2 separate regions of the Homo sapiens genome follow, and region 1 is linked to region 2. The links come from fine-mapping of genetic effects on gene expression. Tissue or cell type: T cells. Region 2 holds a variant in brackets; the other region holds the start of a gene. All regions are shown on one strand. Distances are from middle to middle. Region 1 holds the start of MME (membrane metalloendopeptidase). Region 2 overlaps MME (membrane metalloendopeptidase).

Region 1 (2,911 bases), 38 kb after region 2:
TAAAAAGTTTAAACGGAAAAGTGGACACTGCCACAGACGAGAATAGAGAATTAGGAGGTCTAAGATAACAAGAACCTGCAAACTTCAGCTCGACAATATTACCAACAGAATAAATTACTATTTTAAGTGTAAGCTTAATTTCAAAGCAATGTAAAGCAGCAATTCTTATACCAGTTGAGCATAAGCATTACTATATCAGACAGTCAAAGCAGGAAACCTGGATAACTGATTTGTTAAAAAGGAAATCTCATTGACTTACAGACTTAGACTTAGCTAAGCAGTTTTCATCTTCACTGCACATTATAACATTAACTTATATCTGCAGGTTCCTGAAGCTGTGCTATGCAATTACAGTTTGTTCTATGGAAACTGAGGCACAGGAAGAAGGAGAAACAGTTTCCATATTTAAACTGTGTCTGCAGAAGCTGAGGACAGAGGTACTCAGGATAAATCATCTTCTTGTTTCCCAGACATTAATTAGGTGTTTCCCAGCCTGAAATACGGAGTTCTGGACACGAAGTGCCAACCATATTACTCCCCTGGTTAGTGCTGCTCTACAACCAAAGACACAGGGTTAAGTCCAAGAAATTACCAGACAATTTTTTAAAGTGCTAGAACCCACAAAAATGGCAGGGGATGAAGCTACACGCCTTCATACAGTCGATTTGCCGACAAGCACTTTCCAAATGCTGACGCTGCAAGTCAGGTACTAGTTTTCAGTTTAATAAAATTGCCATTTGAATCATATATGGGGGAGGAATCGACTTGATCGAGAAGCTAAAGAGGGATATTTGGTTGCAATTACCCTTATTTTGAAACCAGACAAATAGACTGAAACCAGTTAAGAGGTCTTAAACTTTCATCTACAAAAGGACACACCAGCCCCGCACCGACCAACCCTTGTGAGATTTAAGCATTAATTATATAATAGGAAATCAGGTTAAAAGCAAGATGAAGAGGTGGGATAATGAAAAGATCTTCCGGTTAAGAAAAGTAAAAATAGAAAAGTGAGTTACAAATGAGAAAATCCGACAGAAACCAAAATGAAAACAAACCTTGCTTTTTAAAAAGAAGAAAAAAAAATCAGTGTCTGTACAGCAGAATGGCAAATTCCCAGCCCCCAAATCAGCCCCGGTGCAATCTGGTAGCGCGGATCTCGGTAACAAAACATAACTCCCCAAGGCAGAGGCCGCAGGGAACTATGGAAATGAACCTGAAGAGCCAACCTGACGTGACTTCCAGAGCCCTCCTCCAGGTCACCCTCTGGGCCCCTCTCCCTCCCCTCACTCTTCAGGTCCCAGTAGCGGCTCCTTCCCAGGGCACGCCTCCTCCACGGCCGCAGGGTCCTGGGCGCTCGGATCGCGCTGGACCTTAGCTGCGGACCCTGCTCAGCGCACCTCCCGGCAGCCGCTCCCCTCGGCTGGCTCTGCCCTCCCCGTGCCCGTCCCACGGGCTCCCAGCGCCCTGGGCGCTCGCGCCCTTTGGACCTTTCTCCCTCAGCTCGCTCTCCTGGGACTCACCAGTGGGATTCGGGAGAAGTTGGAGGCTGCTGAGCCGACACATCCCGACCAATGAGCGCACGGGGCCGGGTGGCAGTGGCGGGCTGAGAGCCCAGCCAAGCGCCTCTCAGTCCGTGCATCCGCCCAAGGCGCGCGGGCTCCAGGCTGAGGCCGGACTTGGGGGAGGTTCCGGACCCGCCTCCGCCCGGGCCGTGGGGCGACGAGGCACCTGGGCATCCCTCCGACCCGCACCCACAGAGACTCACCGTGACCCCTCAGCAGATCCCGCGCCAGGAGTTGGGCGGCTGCTCCAGCCTGCTCTCGGTCAAGCTTCGCCACTTGCACATCTCCGCGCCCCGCGCGTCTCGGCGCTCTCACGGCCCACCCCCCCCACCCCCTACCCCGCCTCGCCGCTGCAGGACCAGAGAGAGGAGCAGTTCCCTGGGTGACCTGAAGGTTTCCGCTAGGTCTCCCAAATCCAGTCACTTCATGTGAGGGGGCCGGGGAGACGGGGGGCGGGCGGTGGCAATGAAAATGTCCCATCCTCCCCACCCCCCATCTCACCATTCCCAAAAGGGCTTTGCTAAACATTTTTAGAATTGCTTAGCTTCGGGGCTTTCAAGAAAACAATACACGGGCTCTTCGGGATTCTCTAGTCCTGAGGGGGCTCCATCTCTCCCCTGTGGACCGGAGACTATAATGCTTGCCTCTTCTCACGCTCTTCTTTCGCTCTCTTTCCCGCTCCCTTTCCTCCCTGAATCCAAGCTTCCTTCCTTCTTCATTTAAATGTCCTCTCTCCCTCCCTCCTTCGTTTTCTTTTTTCTTACTCTCCCTCCCCGTTTCCTTCTTTCCTTCCTTGCTCCTGCTTTCTCCACCCCGCTTCCCTCTTTCTTCCCTTTCTTTTCCTTGGTCGAAGTACTCTCATGTCAAGATCTGAACTGAAACTCTCCGCTCCCACCTCCTGACTTCAGGGAATCTTAAAACGTGTGTACATCGGAGGTTGAGGGTGGGGAGTGAGAAAGAGAAAAATAAACTAAAGTGTGTCTGCTCTACCTACTGAAATCAGCCGTAATGCGCCTGGACCCTCACAGTTTAATGCAAGCAAGCAGCGTACCCCTTTCACTCAAGACACAGCGATTCCTCCTCAAAGGGGTAAATACAAACAAGGAAATAAATACTTTAGGCACAAAGGCAGTTTCTTTGTAAAAGCTACCTTTAGCAGCTATAATTGCCAAGGAGCTCAGAGGAACTAAACTTCCTTTTTTTTTTGCTTCCAGTGTACAAGTACCTTTAATACTGATCCCTTTCCTCTTTTGAATCACAGGTAATTACACACACACACACACACACACACACACACACATACACACACATATTCACACTCCACTGCGGAATTCATACTGAAATAAAAC
Region 2 (2,869 bases):
CACCAGCACCACCCTAGACCATGATAAATCTTTTCATTTTTTAAATAATGCAGTTTACAGGTGGATTAAAATATTTTAAATTAACTTTTCAAAATCGATCATATGTTTTAAATACTAAAAACCAAGATACAAATAAGGAATTTCAAGTTTCCTAGTTTTGTAAAATACCTTCATTCATTCTATTGAGAATGTTCATTCTATCAAAGACAGCTCACTATTATGTGTGATTTTAAGTCCCTGTCATGAATGAAAAACATCAGAGGGCTAAATTTAATTTGGCTTTATCTTTTTCATTACTTGTAGGTTTACACCAGATCATTTTGTAGTTTGGTTTTGATTATTTTTTTTCTTTTTACCTCTTTATAGATTCCAGTGCATTCATAGTAATCTCTAGAAGGGAGGCCAAGTCGAGGTTGGTCAATCTATAAAAAATATACATAAAAGAAAATAAATCATTCAGTGAATATAGAAAAGTTTGAAAAATACAAGCATGTCTATCTATGTATGTGAAAGATCCTACTCTTGCTGTTTATGGGGTGACCATCAGACACTCAATAAATACCTAGTTAGGAAATGCTTTCTACACTACTTGTAAGTGTTATACTAACGGGCAGTTAGATAATCTGGAGGACTGTGCTGCAGATATTTAAGGAAAACAAAAGAAAGTGAACAAAAGATTTACTAGGAGGGATTTTTAATGCAGAGCAGAAGGTGCAAGTGAACAAAAACATGTTAGATTCTAGGACGTGGAAATTTCTAAATTACATATTCACAGATTTCTCAGCTTCCTGAGATTCTAATGTGCTCCCCTGGGAACATTCTCATCTGCTTCCACCCTTAGTTGGGATCCCCTTTCATTGGTGGGAGTGGGTTAATATTCTTCAAGTTGATTTGGATGGATGGGGAGAAGGGGAGAAGTGGAAAACCTCTAAGGTAACTCCAGAATCTTTTAGCTAATGTAACTTGTGCCAGAAAATGTTTTTTAAGATTCTCTACCCTAAGGGAATGGAGGCGACTTCTCCTTGGTTCTCCTCAAAGCTGCTCTGCTCAGAAGAACCTCAGTAGACCCAGATAGCAGTTAAGGGTGTGAAAGAGGAAACTCAGTTTTGCGCTAACGTGTCTGGTCCATGTTTAATACCCAAGTGGGAGCTATCTGGGCATACTGCAGCTTTGCAAGATTGTTTCCTACTCACTGCATGGCAACATGAGTGTGGAGGCCAAACAGAGCATTTCTGGGTTAAAGAGAGAATCCTAGCAGCTGTGGAGAGCCTAGGCCAATAGAAAAGAAAACATAACCCAAAGAACTGGTATGGAAAGAGCCAGAAGATATCTCCACATGAAGGGCCCTGATCCTTCCCCACCCCCTGGTCCTCAAGGTGATCCTGCAAGGAGAAAGTTTCAGAAGAGAGAGAGCCCACTGCAGGAGATTTGGGTTCAATTCCTTTCATGATTTTAACAAAAACGACCATAAAGATTTATGCAATAGTGACACAGATATGATTAGGTGATTCAGTAGCCTGCAATTTTTTGTATAATTTCTTACACAGGAAACCAAAAAAAAAAAAAAACAAAAAAAAAAAGGAAGAAAGAAAAACTCTTTATATTTTTCAGTACATTCCAAACATAGTCATTAATCTAGTCTTAGGTGACACCTAAATCAAATTGTTTACATTTGTAAAAATACAATAAATCCATTTTAAAAGAAAGGCATTTTATTTACCTTTAGTTGAGA[A/G]AAAAGTACAGATACTCTTTAGTGAGGAAAAAAATGATGTTTAAAATCCCTTTTCTGTGTTCTTTTTGAAAGCAATTATTATTTTTTGGTTTCTAGACCTGCATTACTTCTATAAACGAAAGCATGCTCCTTTCAAGTACTATACAAAGAAATTAGGAACTTTTTCTGAATAGGAGGGGCCTGGAGCCCTTCTTATCATTTGTTTTGTGAAGGGAGAGGTATCTAAAACAGAGGTAGCAGAAGCAAGGGGTGAATGTCGAAAACAGCATTAAGAAAATACTTTCAAAATTGGAACTCCAGGTATTAGGGACAGAGCATGGATATACTACCTCCTTGCTTATTCAATTCAATTGAAAATAGCATTATTTCTAAATATCAATAACAACAATGTATGTGGAAGTTTTATTACAATTTAAAGGTAACTTTAGTTATTTGACACACAAACTTACATGAATTACATGATTCACAGAATTCTTATCATCAGTGCCAACAAACAAATTAATAAGGACTTTTTTCCCATATTTAGAATTCAGTTGTGCAATAGCTTTTTCAGCTGTCCAAGAAGCACCTAAAGCAATAAAAGATAAAATATATCTTTAGAAGCTTTAGTTCACTAATGATATTATAACATAGATTTTACATGGAAATTTCTTTTTTAGTAGGAAAATTGCCTTACCATATTTTTGCTCCCAGTTTTCTGTTGCTACTGGCCACCCATATATGTCTGGTAACAGTTTGAGTAGAGGTTCTCCACCTCTGCTATCAATAGCAGCTTTTGGAAACAACAAACATAAATTCAATTAGAAATCTAGGCATAGTTTGGCACCAATATATATATATATATACTCCTAATGAAATCAAATGAAGAGCACTTACATTCATTTATACAAGACCTGTACAATGCTTTTGCTTTCTGCACTGCTACTATATCTTCAGTTTTGGGTTCTTGAAGGACATCTGAAATAGGACATTTAATAAAATGCATCAACATAATTGCTCATTTGCACTATGCAAACATAATTGCTCATTTGCAGTAATTAACATTTGCAAAGTGGGTTCAGTTAAAAAAAAACCTTGCTTTTCTGGAGGTACATTCATTTCCTCCCCCCAGTTCCAAAACATTATAGGAAAAACCAA

Evidence for each region. PIP is the estimated chance that this variant, and not a neighbour inherited with it, causes the effect.
Region 1: MME starts here. The variant in region 2 is fine-mapped to the expression of MME in T cells (TOPMed, PIP above 0.99).

The regions. Positions count from the first base shown.
Region 1 is chr3:155,078,611-155,081,521 of GRCh38, reverse strand. It overlaps MME (membrane metalloendopeptidase), which reads right to left and starts at 1,203. Exons shown (of 23, transcript NM_007289.4): 1 at 1,056-1,203.
Region 2 is chr3:155,116,299-155,119,167 of GRCh38, reverse strand. MME (membrane metalloendopeptidase) reads right to left here. Exons shown (of 23, transcript NM_007289.4): 5 at 2,609-2,689; 6 at 2,409-2,504; 7 at 2,182-2,300; 8 at 357-422. Among named protein-coding and RNA genes, the nearest start is that of MME, 37 kb to the right of the region's middle. The variant A/G (reference allele first, on the strand shown) is at 1,733.